Linked DNA regions of Homo sapiens: region 1 is linked to region 2. A link means that fine-mapping ties the variant in region 2 to the expression of a gene that starts in the linked region. Tissue or cell type: whole blood. Region 2 holds a variant in brackets; the other region holds the start of a gene. All regions are shown on one strand. Distances are from middle to middle.

Region 1 (8,094 bases), 590 kb after region 2:
GATGTATTAGGTTTACATTTGATTCCTTTAAAATAAACACACAAAGAACCTTGATCCATAGAAAAACTACATAAACAGATTTGAAAAGTATTTATCTAACAGTTTCTTTATTTTACTCACCTAATGGAGTTAGTGGACCAAAATTTGAAGTTTTGGAAGAGATCCAAAAACATTCAAAATAAGTTCATGGCCTTCTAACAGGGCAGTAGAACATGATCCAACAGGATTAGAGACAGCCAAGTAGGAAAGACTTCTGCCTAGCAAACACTGACCCAAGTCCAGAATATTCTCTGCATAGCAGCATTATATACATGAGTAGGTCCTGGGTTCATTTCAGTTTTCTTTTCTTTTCTTTTCTTTTTTTTTTTTTTTTTGAGATGGAGTCTCGATCTTGTCGTCCAGGCTGGAGTGCAATGGCATCGTCTCGGCTCACTGCAACCTCTGCCTCCCTAATTCAAGTGATTCTCCTGCCTCAGCCTCCCATGTAGCTGGGGTTACAGGTGCCTGCCACCATGCCCGGCTAATTTTTGTATTTTTAGTAGAGACAGGGTTTCACTGTGTTGGCCAGGATGGTCTCGAACTCCTGACCTCAGGTGATCCGCCCGTCTCGGCCTCCCAAAGTGCTGGGATTACAGGCGTGAGCCACTGCACCCAGCCTCATTGCAGTTTTCTATTATGTTGATGGAGGCTGTCTCTAAGGAGCTCTCTCATACCAAATGAATCCTGAGCCTTACCAAAAGGCAGGGTTTTTTCCTTTGTAAATGTTTACATTCATATTCTAATAAATAGTACACTAATAATGGATTTTATGTATCATCCAGACCCATGAATCCCAAATCTATATCTCTGATCTAGACCTCTTCTCTGCACTTCAAGTGCCTCTATATCCAATGGCCACAGATGTCTAACAGGCATCTCAACTTCATGTGATGTCTCTCTGATAGGAACATTATTTCCACCCCAAACCTGTTCCTCTCTGTTTTTCCAGTTTTAATAAATGACTCCACCATTCACCTGATTTCTCCAAGATGTATCCTCAATTATTCCCTTTCCTTCATACCCTGTATCTATTTCACCAGCAAGCTCTACCTTATTTGATCTGCTTCCAATGCATATCTTGAATCCATCCACTTCTCTCCATTTCTGTTTTCCTAATCTAAGTTGTAATTATTTCTTGCCTGGGTCTTCTCCCTGATATTCTTGCCTCCTTACTCTCAGCTTAATACAGAGCATCCAGTGTGCTCTTTTAAAAACTTTACAATCAGCTCACTTACTTTTCAGCTTGAAATGCTTTGAAGCAGAGCAGTGATCTGGGTCCTGCCGACTGCCCCAATTTCCACCTGGCTCATGCTCTGCATGCACTTCCTTAAAGAGGCCAAGACCTCTCCCACCTCTGGGCTTTTCATTTGTTCCTTCTGCCTAGAATGCACTTCCCTCCGCTGATTCATTCTTGTCCTTCTGGCCTCTGAGAGCCTTTCTCCCAGTTACCTTCTCATGACCCAGTTCTTTCCTTCATTGAACTAATCACGATCTGTAATTATATTTTTTGGTTTTTTTTTTTGTCTGTCTTCTCCCTGTTAGAATGTAAGCTCTATGACGGACCTTTTCTAACTTGTTTGCCATTGTGTCCCCAACTTGGAGCCTAGCTCATGCCTGCTACATAATGGGTGCTCAATAAATATTTGTTAAATGAATGAATCATACAGCAGCTCAACTTGGATTATAATTTAGATACTCTAATTTATATTCCAGTACTTATCATGCTACCTCAAACAAAAATGGAGGTAAGAAAAAAAATACTGATAGCCAAGTCCTCCCCTCACTCCACCAAAAAAGAGGGGTTGTTGTATGTGTGTGTATACATTTACTCAGTTCAATTCCAGCTTAACACCATTGGGTATTAACTGTGTATATGATACTGTACTACAAGTTGGGACTTCAGCATAAATTAAATGATACCTGCCTCTAAGATGAATAAAAGGACATGGGCAAATACACAACTAGCCACAAGTCAGCTGTTGTGTTATAAGCAACTGTGCTTGAAGTAAATTAGCTAACGCCAAGACAGATAGCAGCATAGTCTTAGGATCCACTAATAATGCATTATTAAGACCAAACTCTTCCAAGGACTTGGGAGTAAGCTATGGTTCTGTTCTTTTCCAGCTGGCGTTTTTTAACATCCCCTTGATGGCTTACATGTGTTGGAGCTTGCTGCAGCGGTGCTTTGGTCACAACTTCAGGTCTCATCTCCATCAAAGAAAATACTTGAAAATTATGCCTGTTCACCTACTTATGCTACTGCTGTACATCTGGCAGGTTTATTCCTGCTACTTTCTTTATGCAACATACGGCACCCTAGCTTTTTTATTCTCCCCTTTGCGGACCTGGTTGACACTGCTGACACCTGTTCTCATTCGTTATGTGTGGACACTGAACTCCACCAAGTTTGGAATCTTCATGGTGCAGTTAAAAAGCCACCTGAGCTCCTGAAGGCCATGTCTCACCACTGGCAGCTGGGCAGAAGCCCAGCCTCTGTGTCTGTAGCCCAGGCCTCTACCCCAGTAGCAGGTGGAGGGCCAGGATTGGTGGGTGAGCTTTAGGGAGCAGCTGCTCGTTTGGAGTCCTGGACGTTGGAGGGATTACCCACTACTGATACCTGCAGAATGGACTGCAGAAAAGTCTCAAAAATAATGCCTTTATTCCTTCCCTCCCTAAGGAGGCAAAGAGTTGATTTACCTTTGTGAAGAGAAAACCCTTATCTAGGACATCCACAGGGTAGAGGTTGGGTGTGTGTACGGGAGTGTCTGAGGCCCAGTGTGTTTTTTAGGGTTACCCCATGTAAAGCACTTACCGCTGTGCTTGGAATTCAGCAGCTGTCAAAGGTGCAATTTCAGGGGCAGGGAACCTTTGAGGATCTGGGCCCGACCCTCACTACCCCTGAGATATTAGTTCCCAGGCCTGTTTTCCCACAGGATTGTGGGCTCTCTGCTTCCTTAGTCGGAAGTGTTTTCAACTAATCAAATAAATGAATGAATGATGAATAAGAAAGACGGTGAGCCTGAGGCTTGCTTGTGTAGCCTGGCCTAAGGGGCAAGAGAAGGCGTGGCCTGTCCTGGCCTCTGAGAGTGGGATGGTTGGTGCTGTACCTCAGGGGACAGGGCGGGGCGGGAGGAGGCGGGGCCAGGCCTGGTCTCTGATAACGGGATGGGTGGTGCTGGACCTCGGGCGGGGCCGGGCCTCGTGGCGGGAGGAGGCAGGGCAGGGCCTCTGGGACGGGGCTGGACGGCTTGTTGACGGAAACGAGCCCTTGACGCTGTGGCCCGGAAGTGGAGCGGCTGTCGCAGTGCGGCTCCGGCAGTGGCAGCGGAGGCCTGTGTTTGCGGCCTTCGGCAAGCGACTGAGATGGCGAGCGCAACTGCACCTGCAGCCGCAGTCCCCACCCTGGCTTCGCCTTTGGAGCAGCTCCGGCACTTGGCGGAGGAGCTGCGGTTGCTCCTGCCTCGAGTGCGGGGTGAGCTGACGGAGTTAGAACGGGCGACGGCAGGGGCGGGCTCGGGGTCGGGGAGAGGCCGGGCTCGGGGTCGGGGAGAGGCCGGGCTCGGGGTCGCGGAGAGGGCGGGCTGGGGCGGCGGCGGGGAGCCGGGCTTGGGCGAGGGAGGTGGCTCCGCTTACCTCAGCTTTTCCATTCGCCACCGTTCGGCCCCCACACGCCACACCCACAAGTCGGCGAAGCCCAGGAGACCACCGAGGAGTTTAATCGAGAGATGTTCTGGAGAAGACTCAGTGAGTGCGCCTCCTTCCGGGCTCCCCTTGCCTCAGTTCCTCCAGCGTCCCGACCCCTTTTCCTCCCGCTGTCCCCCACGGAGGGGACTGCTCTCCCCCGCTGCATCCTTTCTGTGAGGTACCTTACCCACCTCAGCACCTGAGAGGGTGAAATAGAATTCTAACCTCGACATTCGGGAAGTGTTTTTGAGAAGTCTCGGTCGGTAAGGGAAGTCTTCCAAGTCCGTGCAGCACTAACGTATTGGCACCTGCCTCCTCTTCGGCCACCCCCCAGATGAGGCAGCTGTGACTGTGTCAAGGGAAGCCACGACTCTGACCATAGTCTTCTCTCAGCTTCCACTGCCGTCTCCACAGGTGGGCTTCACTTTCGTGGAATCCTTGGGCTGCCGAGTTACACCTTAGGAATCCTCTAATTTTCTTTCCACCTTTTGCACGCACGCCAGGAGATTTCTTTTCTTCATCTGTCCAGTGAGGTTACCGTTTTTACTTCACAGGATTGTTGTGAAGACCGAATTGCCAAGTGCAGTTCCTGGCGCGGAGTAGGCAGGTCTTATAAATATTGGTTCAGTCTGAAGTTTATCCTGGTTGTTTCCCTTCTGATAATTTTTTAAGCACTTTTTATTTGCTGGGTGTTTTCACATACTTGATGGCCATCTGACAGATGAGCAAGGAGGCTCAGAAGCTCAGCTTAAGATTTAAAAAAAAGCAGGGGGGCTAGAATTTAAATCAAGGTCTATCTGATGTCTAAGCTACCTATTCTGTTATACTGCATAATACCCTTTTTATATTATTTTTTATATTTAATCAGTAACATATGTAGATAGTACAAAATTCAACAGATATCAAAGTGTGTTAAGTTTACCTTTCCACCCACTTTCTCATTTTTGTCTCCCCCAGTTCCTTTTGCATTATTCCACGTATATTCTGTGCATATATACATTCATATACATTTATCTGTATGTGTCAGCTTCTTTTTACACAAATGATACATAAACACTGTTCTGGACCTTCCAACTTAGAATTACTGCAAACAGTGTCGTGATGAATTACCTAATTCTGTGTATGTGTGTATATTGGTAGAAAAAATTCCCGGAAGTAGAATTGCTAGAACAAAGATTTATGCATTTTAAATATTCCTTTATTATAAAACTAATGAAAGTAAACATGTTGGCTATGACCACGTATGCTCTATGCTCAGTTTTTCTAGAGTTGTGTATGCTTAATATAGGAGTAAGATTCTTTTAAAATGGCATATTCATTGCCTTATTTGATTTTCATAGTCAATTGTTTTAATTTTTCAGTCTACATATATAGGTGTTTGGAAAGGATATAAATATCTTCTGCTGCATGTACCTACAGTGATAAACTCTCTCCTCCTACATACCTTTGAGATTTTTTTTTTTTTTTTGAGACAGAGTCTCTCTCTGTCACTCAGGCTGGAGTGCAGTGGCACAGTCTGGGCTCACTGCATCCTCTGCCTACCGGGTTCAAGCAGTTCTCCTGCCTCAGCCTCTCGAGTAGCTGGGATTACAGGCACCTGTCACCACGCCTGGCTAATTTTTGTATTTTTAGTTGAGACGGGGTTTCACCATGTTGGGCAGGCTAGTCTCGAACTCCTGACCTCAAGTGATCCGCCTGCCTTGGCCTCCCACAGTGTTGGGATTACAGGTGTGAGCCACCGTGCCTGGCCTACCTTTGAGATTTGTGATGAGGAAACAAGAGATGAATTGTATGAGAGCACTTCAAAAGATTCATGGAAAATACTTATTTCAAAAAGAGTAGTTAATATTACCTTATTTTTCTTATCTGCTAACCCCTTTCTTTCAAATGCACTTAGGACTTGCTGCTAAAACTCACTGCAAGTAAGATACCACAAGGAGGCAGCATAGAACTGATTTTCTATACATGCTCAGGACAGTAGTTTCACTCATAGATGAAAAGTTAGAATTTGGATTTATTTGAAATATATACAAATATTCAAGTATATACATATATTCAAATAAATACATATATGTATATATGTGTGTATATACACACATACATACACATGAATCATCATTGCCTTCTTGAGATCTCACCACTTTAGTCCTACTAAAAGATGGGTGGTTGTTGGTTTTTTTTTGTTGTTGTTGTTGTTTTTTAAATTCCAATCTGTATGGAATGATACTTTAATAAAATTATGTGCTCGGATGTTGAATAAATGTCAAATTGCCATAAAAGTTTCTAAACACTCTCAGTCACTGCTTATCTCATCCCTGACTGGTCACAAACAGTTTGTAGACTGGCTCCAACCTGGACCACATTTGTATAGTATTGACTTAGAATTTAACAGAAAATTGAGGACAAGGAAGATGAGAAAGCCAGTGACCACCTAGAAGGAAAATAGTTAACATGGAGCATTGTCGAGTCCATGCTAGTTACCTTTAGTTACATATTCTGATTCTGTTAAAAAAAGAGAGAGACCTGGTTAATGGTTTAATAACCATGGTCTGTCAGTTGGTCTGTCTGTCTCTCTCCCTCCCTCTCTTTTCTGTAAAGGGCCAGTTAGTAAATATTTTAGATTTTGTAACCAACTACCCAACTCTGCCCTTATAGAGCAAACACAACTACAGACATTAAAACCAGTGAGTATGGCTGTGTCCCAATACACTTCATTTCCAAAAACAGGCAGTGGGGCCTGACTTGGCCTGAGGACCACAGTTTGCCAGCTCCTGGTCTAAGATATCATGAATATCTTGGGATACAGAGTATCAGGAATAAGTTTTTTCCTGCTGTTTCTTAATGGTTTATTGAGTTGTCAGCCCAATATCTACTATATAGCTAACTCCTCCCTGGTATGTGATGAGTATAGTAGGCCTGCCTTCATACCAGGACTTCAGAAAATGTTTGATGATGCTGTAGAAATATCTGCCCTAGGCCGGGTGCAGTGGCTTACACCTGTAATCTCAGCACTTTGGGAGGCCAAGGGAGGTGGATCACCTGAGGTCAGGAGTTCGAGACCAGTGTGGCCAGTGTGGCAAAACCCCATCTCTACTAAAAATACAAAAAATTAGCTGGGTGTGGTGGCGGGTGCCTGTAATCCCAGCTACTTGGGAGGCTGAGGCAGGAGAACTGCTTGAACCTGGGAGGTGGAGGTTGCAGTGAGCCAAGATTGCGCCATTGCACTCCAGCCTGGGTGACAGAGTGAGACTCTGTCTCAAAAAAAAAAAAAAAAAAAAAAAAAAAGAAAAAGAAAGAAAAGAAAAAGAAAAGAAATATCTGCTCTATTCCACAGCAGAAGGGTTGACCACTTTGATCTAATCTGTTTCCTTTTTCATAGGAAACCCAGAAGTTCTGTGAACAAGTCCATGCTGCCATCAAGGCATTTATTGCAGTGTACTATTTGCTTCCAAAGGATCAGGGTAAGCCACATAAGTGTTGCATTTATCGTGTAGATCTTTGCTAATATTGTGGATTATGTCTTGTGACTTTTACCTTTACCCAACTTGAACATGTAACTTTCTCCCATAAAATACAGTGAAGGATAATTTTGTAATGTAAGTGACTTATATAAACAAGCCATTATTCTAAGATACAGATGCTTTGTTCCTATGACTTCCCATCTCCCCTGCCTTGCCTGACTCATAAGGCTTTTAATTCTCACAGCCTTCTCCCTCTTCAACCCGTTTTAACACCACAGATACTGGCTGGCTCTCAGCCCCATATGCAGGCTCAGGCCATCCTTACTTTCCTCCACCCATGTTATATCTCACCCTATTTCTGAACATCTGCATAGGTTAAATGGCCTCCAGCCCTGCCTGTAGAATCATGCATTGATTATAATCATGCCAAAATTATAACTGAATACATGTCATGGATCTTCAGGGTTACTCAAGTGGCTTAAACTTCAAGTGTTTCATCTACAGTTGTTAAGAGATCACGGTCCTTAATGAATGAATACATGGTGTCACGGAAAGATTTTGTTCCAAATCTCTTTTGAAGAAAACACTAAGGAATGGCAGGAGGGGCAAGAAAATGCCATGGGGATATAAGTAAGACCTGAGTTTTGTGTTAGCATGTAGGTTAAAGCATGTGGGTGTACATTACCTTATAGTTCTGTAATGCTTAGACTCAGGAAAGCAGATGGTGCTTCTGAAAAGAACACCAGGTTGCTTATTCTTTGGGTTTGGCCACAGGGATCACCCTGAGAAAGCTGGTACGGGGCGCCACCCTGGACATCGTGGATGGCATGGCTCAGCTCATGGAAGTACTTTCCGTCACTCCAACTCAGAGGTAGTGATGCCACAGTTTAGGTTACCAGTTATTGGGGTT
Region 2 (8,104 bases):
TGATACAATCAGAGGCCCTCATTGCTTTAACACAGAAATTGGAGCTCAGGTTTAACCCTAATCACTATGGCTCTGAGGCCACCACGGACGGGTAAGAAAGGTGGAATCTATACAATCTTAGGACTTGGGGTGGAAAAGAATTTGGATGTAACCCAGTTTATCCTCTTCACAGCGTTTTTTTTTTTTTTTTTTTTTTTTTTTTTTTTTTTTTTTGGAGTGGGGGGTGGGGGTGTGTGGACAGAGTCTTAGTCACCCAGGCTGGAGTACAGTGGCTCAATCTTGGCTCGCTGCAACCTCCGCCTCCTGGGTTCCAGCGATTCTTGTGCCTCAGCCTCCTGAGTAGCTGGGACTACAAGCGTGTGCCACCATGCTCAACTGATTTTTGTATTTTTAGTAGAGACAGGGTTTCGCCATGTTGGCTAGGCTGGTCTCGAACTCCTGACCTCAAGTAATCCACCTGCCTTGGCCTCCCAAAGTGCTGGGATTACAGGTGTGAGCCACCACATCCAGCTCTCCACAGCATTAGTGATCAAATTTTGAGAGGAGGGGTCAGTCTATTGAAGTATAATTTAGATATAGTGAAAGATTTACCTTTTTTTCTTTTTTAACAATTATTTATTATTATTTTTAATAGAGATAGGGTCTTGCTGTATTGTCTAGGCTGGTCTTGAGCTCCTGGGCTCAAGTGATCCTCCCGCCTTGGCTTCCCAAAGTGTTGGGATTATAGGCATGAGTCACCACGCTTGGCCAAATTCACCTTTTTAATGTACAGTAACACATTCAGGTGTGTAACTGACACTACAATCAATATACAAAATAGTCTATCATCCCAAAAATTGCTTCATGCTCTTTTATAGTCTATTTCCCCAGGCCCTCACAATTACTGATCTGTTTTCTGTCCCTACAGTTTTATCAGTTCCAGAACGTCATAAAAATGGAATCAAACAGTATGTAGTTGTTTGAATCTGGCTTCTTTCACTTTGCGTGATGTATTTGAGATTCATCTTTTTTTTTTTTTTTTTAAATGGAGTTTCGCTCTTGTTGCCTAGGCTGGAGCGCAGTGGTGCGATCATGGCTCACTGCAACCTCCACCTTCTGGTTTCAAGTGATTCTCTGGCCTCAGCCTCCTGAGTAGCTGGGATTACAGGCGCCTGCCACCATGCCCAGCTAATTTTTTTATTTTTAGTAGAGACGGGGTTTCACTATGTTGGCCAGCCTGGTCTCAAACTCCTGACCTTGTGATCCACCTGCCTTGGCCTCCCAAAGTGCTGGGATTACAGGCGTGAGCCACCACACCTGGCCAAGATTCATCTTTACTGTTGTGTGTGTCACATCTTCTAACCTTGATTCTTTTTTTTTTTTTTTTTTTTTTTGTTGAGACCGGGTCTCGCTCTGTCACTCAGGCTGGAGTAGGGTGGCGCAGTCACAGCTCACTGCAGCCTCAACCTCCTGAACTTAAGTGATCCTCCCACCTCAGCCTCCTGAGTAGCTGGGACTACAGATACGTGTGCCACCATGCTCGGCTAAGTTTTGTAGTTTTTGTAGAAATGTGGTCTCACTGTGTTGCTCAGGCTGGTCTCAAACTCCTGGGCTCAAACGATCTGCCTGCCTTGGCCTCTCAAAGTGCTGGGATTACAGGTGTGAGCCACCACACCTGACCTTGATTCATATTTATTTAAATTATCTGCTCTCCCAGAAGGAATCTCATGACTTTGGAAGCATGGATTCTAACTATAAAGGATACAGTGTGTCTTTCATCCCTAGGTTTCTTCTTATTACAAAGGAAGGACTGCTCAGAAATATGGCATTGATTTCAGATATCAAAATATCTGAGGGAACTATCTAAATTTCCCTTAGTGGATATGGAGGGAGTATCTAAATATCTGACTTTAGGGGGATTTAGAGCAGCATCTTAAGAAGCCATTCAGAGGTAGATGTTGACAAGAATGTCACCTGATCAGTGTTGGTGCTTGTGTTAGTCTATTTTGTGTTATAAAGGAATACCTGAGGCTTAGTAATTTATAAAGAAAAGAGGTTTATTTGGCTCACAATTCTGCAGGCTTTATAGAAAGTATTGTGCCAGTATCTGCTGTTGCTGAGGGTTCAGAGAGCATCCAGTTGTAACAGAAGGGGAAGGAGACAGTCTTGTCACAGCGAGAGAGAGAGAGCGAGAGATGGGAGGGAGGCCACTCTCTTAAACAGTCAGCTCCAGTGTGAACTAATAGAGCAAGAACGCACTCATTACTGTGGGGAGGGGACCAGGCCATTCATGAGGGATCTGTCCCCATGACCCAAACACTTCTCAGCAGGCCCCAGCTCCAACATTGGGGGTCACATTTCAACATGAGATTTGGAGGGGACAGATGCACAAACTGTGTCAGTGCTGCCTTGTCATAGCCTCTTAGTATGTTAGAGTTTGAAGAGAACTTGTTAGTCATCTAGGCCAGAGTTTGTTGACCTCAGCGCTGTTGACATTTTGACCATATAATTCTTTGTTGTGGGGGTCTGTACTGTGCATTGTAGAATGTTTAGCAGCATTCCTGGCCTCTACCCACTTGATGCCAGTAGCAATCCCCCAACTGTGACAATAAAAAACATGTCCAGGCTGAGCACAGTGGCTCACGCCTGTAATCCTAGCACTTTGGGAGGCCAAGGCGGGTGGATCACCTGAGGTCAGGAGTTCAAGACCAGCCTGGCCAACGTGGCGAAACCCTGTCTCTACTAAAGATACAGAAAATAGCCAGGCATGGTGGTGCATGCCTGTAATCCGAGCTACTCGGGAGGCTGAAGCAGGAGAATTGCTTTAACCCGGGAAGCGGTGGTTGCAGTAAGCCGAGATCGCACCACTGCACTCCAGCCAGGGCAACAGAGCAAGAGTCCATCTTAAAAAAAAAAAAAAAATGTCTGGACATTAGCCACTAATCTAGGCCAACCCTCATATGTTACAGATCTGGCCATGTAATTTATGGCATTATACAGGTGGTTAGTGCTCAAGCTGGAACAGACCCAGGCTTCCTTATGGTGGTCTTTTTATTGCATTGTATCATTCTCTGTCTTTTTATATTTACAGCCTCAAAAGATAGGTTCAAAGTTAAAATTCCTTAGTGCTTTGGCACTCTTCCTGGTCCTTAGTGGTGAAATGCCTGAGTAAATAGATCAGTTGTCACCAACTAGGGACTACTAGAGGACAAGTCAGCTACTGCAAGTTCTACTGAGAAGCAGCTTTATTTGTTAAATGCCTATTGATAGCCAGATACAATTGTAAATGTTTATCACTTCATTCACGTTCTATTAGATCTATATTATTTACTCCATTTTGTAGATAAGGAAACTGAGGCATAGAACGTTTATAGGACTTGCCAGTAAGTGGTGGAGCAAGAATTCAAATTCAAGACTGTTTAACTCTAAATTTTATGTCATTTCCACTAAACCTCACTGACTCTCAAAAAGAAATACCATTTAGCCTACTA[G/GTGATC]TGATCTGATCATCTCTTTATGTATATTTGATATAATTTCTTAAATACCCTAAAAGGTAGAGGATTTTATCCCCCTTTTATAGTGGAGGAAATTTAGGCTTAGAGAAGTTATATGATCTGCCAAAGTTACACAGTAAGATGTGAGTTCTAGATTTGAACACAGGATCATCTGACTGCAAAGTTCATATTCAACACTATGCTGCAGTACAAAAGGAAAATGAAGGATATGGGAAAAGGAAGCGATGGAAAACTGGAGAAGGGGAGAGAAAAGACTATAGTGAATGGGATGTGGTTGGAGATCTCTATAGTACCTGTCTTGTCCATTACTCCTTGACCCTGGTGTCAGCTTCCTGTTTTTTTTCTTTTTCTTTTTTCTTTTTTTTATTTTTTGAGACAGAGTCTCACTCTGTCACCCAGGCTGGAGTGCAGTGGTGCGATCTTAGCTCACTGCAATCTCCGCCTTCCGGTTTCTAGCAATTCTCCTGCCTCCGCCTCCCGAGTAGCTGGGATTACAGGTGTGTGCCACCACACCCGGCTAATTTTTGTATTTGTAGTAGAGACGGGTTTCTCCATGTTGGCCAGGCTCGTCTCGAACTCCGGATCTCAAGTGATCTGCCCACCTCAGCCTCCCAAAGTGCTGGGATTACAGGCGTGAGCCACCACACCCAGCCAGCTTTCCATTCTTAAGGCAAGTCATTATTGGTCTAAATGCTGTTTTCAGTATTTGTTAATATTTGGACTTGCAGCAGAAGCTTTTCTTCAAAATTGGCCTGTATTTTTTCTGGCTTGAATCTGTATTAAAGTCAATTTGCTTCTCTGAAATTAAACCTGGACTTGAATTCAGGCAGTCAGTTATTGGCTAGCTTACTTTGGGCAAGTTGCTTATCCTCTTTGCTTTCTAGTTTCTTCAGCTCTAAAATAGAGATCATATATGCCTCAAAGAGTTATTGTGAGGAGGAAATGAAATAATTAAAGTGCCCAGCCCAGTACTTGGCACCTCGGCGTCAAATGAGTTTATGAGTGCTGTGCCTTGGGTCCCTGCCGTGATTACCATTATCATACGTAGTACAAGAGAAGCAAGGCTCATGATATTTTTCTGAGTTGAACTAGATTTGGAAACCTCTTTTCTGAATCTGGTTATGATCCCTTCTGGGACCATCCTGCTCCATTTGGAAAACTAACTTCCCTCCCTTCCTCCTGGTGAGGAACATCTGTTGGCGCAGGAATCCTCTGCTCCGGCGTATTGTGTTTGGGTGACTGTGTGTTTGTAAAACTTTCCATGAGGAGTATTAGCTCAGCTTTACCCACCAGGGCCTGAAAGTGGCTGTTTAAAACAAATGCAGACTGAGTCAACAAAAATCATGTCTATGAACAAAAAGCTAACCGCTCTTCATGGAAAGAATTGCTCCTATTCTTCTGGAAATCTTTATTTTAAAATGGTCTGTTATTTAGCTAAAACACTTGTAGCATTTCCAGACCAAAAAAAAAATCATGTTGAGTGAGCAGGAGATTTTTGTCTGAATTCAAAACAACCACTGTCTCCAAAATTGAAAGTATTTTAGTAGTAATATGGTTGTGCTTCTTTTTTTTTTTTTTTTTTTTTTTTTTTGAGACAGAGTCTCACTCTGTTGCCCAGGCTGGAGTGCAGTGGTACAATCTCGGCTCACTGCAAGCTCTGCCTCCCAGGTCCACGCCATTCTCCTGTCTCAGCCTCCTGAGTAGCTGGGACTACAGGCGCCCGCCACCACGCCCGGCTAACTTTTTTTTTTGTATTTTTAGTAGAGACGGGGTTTCTCCGTGTTAGCCAGAATGGTCTTGATCTCCTGACCTCATGATCCGCCCGCCTCGGCCTCCCAAAGTTCTGGGATTACAGGCGTGAGCCACCGCGTGGTTGTGCTTCTTGTTGTTTTAATATTTATTTGGTCTCCACAATATACTGAACATCAAACAACACACAGAATACATCATTACTTATGTCAAGGAGCCCTGAGAGAGAGTGAGCAAGTGAGAGTGAGAGAGACAGACAGACGGAGAAAAGAGAGTGTGCTATAGATTCTTTGGTGAATATCTTTTCCAATTCTGGACTTCAGTGTGAGGATGTCAGGAACCTGGAGAGGCTTCAGAGGGAAACCACACATACTCCCCCAAATGATTACAGAGCTGGACTGCAGGAACCAAGAGGAGCCACTATTAGTGTAGTATACCTCATGGGCATTCCACATGCGATTATTCAGTAAAGGAATGTTGATCCTGCGATGGGAAGGCAGAGATGATAATGCTCCATAAGTACTGAACATGAGGAGTTTTTTTCTGGAACATGAGAACCAGCTGGTCTTTGTTTTCATTAGGATAAAAGAGATTTCAGTTAAATTGCAGAAAATTGTACGTAATTAGGACACGAAGAGTAACTTGTACAGAATTTTTGAATCCTGATACATAGTAGCTAAATAGCTTGACTTTAGAATTCCAGAATATTAATACTGGAAGAAATGTTAAGAGACCATTCAAGATACTTACTTTTTCAGATTGAAGGTCTAGAGAGACAAAATAACAGTTAGAAGTTTTTTTTGTTTGTTTGTTTTCTTTTTGGCCAGTCCAGAATTGTTCTTGATGTGGCTGGGAAATCCTGTTGTTTATTCTAATGGTAGGGGCCATGGACTGCAACACAATGGTCCTAGCATAACAGGTAATGTGCCACTAGCAGAATCTCAAGGAAAGATCTTGTTCTTTAGATCTAACCTGTCCCTGGCTCTGTAGTCAACTGGGATGAGGAAATTGCCCTATTGCCATCTAGTAGTATGGGGAAGTATTCCATACCTGTTGTTATGCGTTCTCTAATGTGACCAGGTGTGATTAGATACTGCTGCCATAAAAGCAGCATTTCTGTTTGGGAAACCCCAACCCATTACAAAATGATAACAAGTGATCTGTTATCTGCTGCCTCAGAAAGTACGCAGGATGAGCTGGAGAGATGGAGTGTGACCTTCCCTTCTTTTATGCCTTACTTTTCTTGTATCTGCTGAACTTGGAGTGTGAATGAAGGTTTTGGGGAAGGTGGAAGAATGACTGAAACTGAGGAGGGACCTTTGAGGGGCTAGAGGAGAGGGAAACATGAGGAACAAACTAAGGTGAGGAGGAATTTGAGAGCTCACAGAGGGGTGGGCACTGTTAGGATTGTGTCACTTTTTTACAGCAGGTATCTCCATTTTAGGGATAGGAACAGGCTCAGATTTGTTGCATTATTGCTTAAGGTCATACAACCAAGTGATGGACGCAGCAATCAAACCTTGACTATGTGACTCCATGGTCCAAGCTCTCGCACACTATACCACATACAACTCTATTCCTGTATTTCCAGTGCTGCACATCTTCCATTATCAATCAATGGCTATTAGATTAATTATTCAATTAAAGGTTCAATGTATGACTGACAAGATAGGACTCTGCCTTCTTGAATTTTGCTGCCTGTTTTGGGAAGGCCTCATAATTTGCCTAAGTTAAAGAACCACAGATGCCAATCAGTTTCTTTGTGCATCCCCTTTTTCTGATGCATGTATGTGCTAGGGGAGCTGGGGAGTATGTGGATTCAAAGCAGCATTTTCTCATGAATATTTGCAGAGCTTTGTACATTCCATCACTAGTGCTGGTTTTTTTCCAACCAAGATGGAGACAGAAGTCGAAGGGAGAGAAGTTTATAAGAAAAAGCCTTTTTGTGCAGTAATCAGATGGGGCTCTGCAGAGCTGAGTGGAAGATGGGAGGGGTTACCATGAGTGTTTCAGTATGTCCCTCTGCCAGCAGCACAGCTGTTTGGTTCCATAAGCATGTCTGTGAGCTGGATTTTAATCTAACTTGTTTTTTCCGTCTTTAGAAACTTGACTGTGAATCTTTAAAGAGTAATTTTCAGACTCGTAGAAACATCTGAAAGACAGAGATTCTTGACAATGTTTGCTGCTCGTGGCACATGACTATGCAAAAATGAACAGTGGAAACTAGAGAAATCTTTTAAAATGCCAAAGCTTATGTGGATTTTTCCCCCTGTAAGACAAGGGTAATGGAAATTCCTTGTGGTAGCTAGAGCCCTTGAGATCCAGGCTGGAGAGAGAGGTTATCTGTAGGGGAGACATGCCCAAAGCTTGATAGTCATTTGCAGATGACCAAGGGCAGCCTAAGCATAAATGGAGAGTTCCTAAGACAGTTGTCCTTGATGTTACCCCATTTTTCTCTTGCTTGGATCTGCAATGCTGAAAATTCCTTATACTCACCCTTTGCACCTTAAACTTGGGTTTGTCCTGGGTTTAAAGCGATTGTCAATTAATTGCTTGAGGAAGAGAAGTATGATGATGGTGATGATTACTTTGAGAGTCTTTGGACAAAATGATTTGCAAAATCTTCTAAACGAGAGGATATAAAATGAACAGCAGCCCTTTGAGCAAAAGATCTGTATGTCCACCACAGTAGACAGGCATGCACAGGCAGACTGCTAACAGGTGCTAAATTTTCTTCCCACATACTTGCACAGTAAGCCTGTGTCCAAGTACCCTCTTAACCCCATTTCTGTAGTCCTCTGTTTGGGGGAGCCAGTGTAGCTGACCAACAAAAGGCTCCTTCTAAATACAACATTCAGAAAAGGGTT

The links. PIP is the estimated chance that this variant, and not a neighbour inherited with it, causes the effect.
Region 1: CCNDBP1 starts here. The variant in region 2 is fine-mapped to the expression of CCNDBP1 in whole blood (INTERVAL, PIP above 0.99).

Annotation. Positions count from the first base shown.
Region 1 is chr15:43,182,097-43,190,190 of GRCh38, forward strand. It overlaps CCNDBP1 (cyclin D1 binding protein 1), which reads left to right and starts at 3,307. Exons shown (of 11, transcript NM_012142.5): 1 at 3,307-3,511; 2 at 3,724-3,783; 3 at 4,058-4,137; 4 at 7,103-7,184; 5 at 7,959-8,055. The coding sequence starts at 3,403. TMEM62 (transmembrane protein 62) reads left to right here. Exons shown (of 14, transcript NM_024956.4): 14 at 2,164-3,048. The coding sequence ends at 2,490. LOC124903478 (a long non-coding RNA gene) reads right to left here and starts at 3,791. Exons shown (of 2, transcript XR_007064604.1): 1 at 3,673-3,791. RefSeq lists silencers at 3,033-3,332, 3,553-3,642 and an enhancer at 3,813-3,912.
Region 2 is chr15:42,588,603-42,596,706 of GRCh38, forward strand. The region is part of intron 3 of STARD9 (StAR related lipid transfer domain containing 9); the gene reads left to right. Among named protein-coding and RNA genes, the nearest start is that of STARD9, 17 kb to the left of the region's middle. The variant G/GTGATC (reference allele first, on the strand shown) is at 3,471.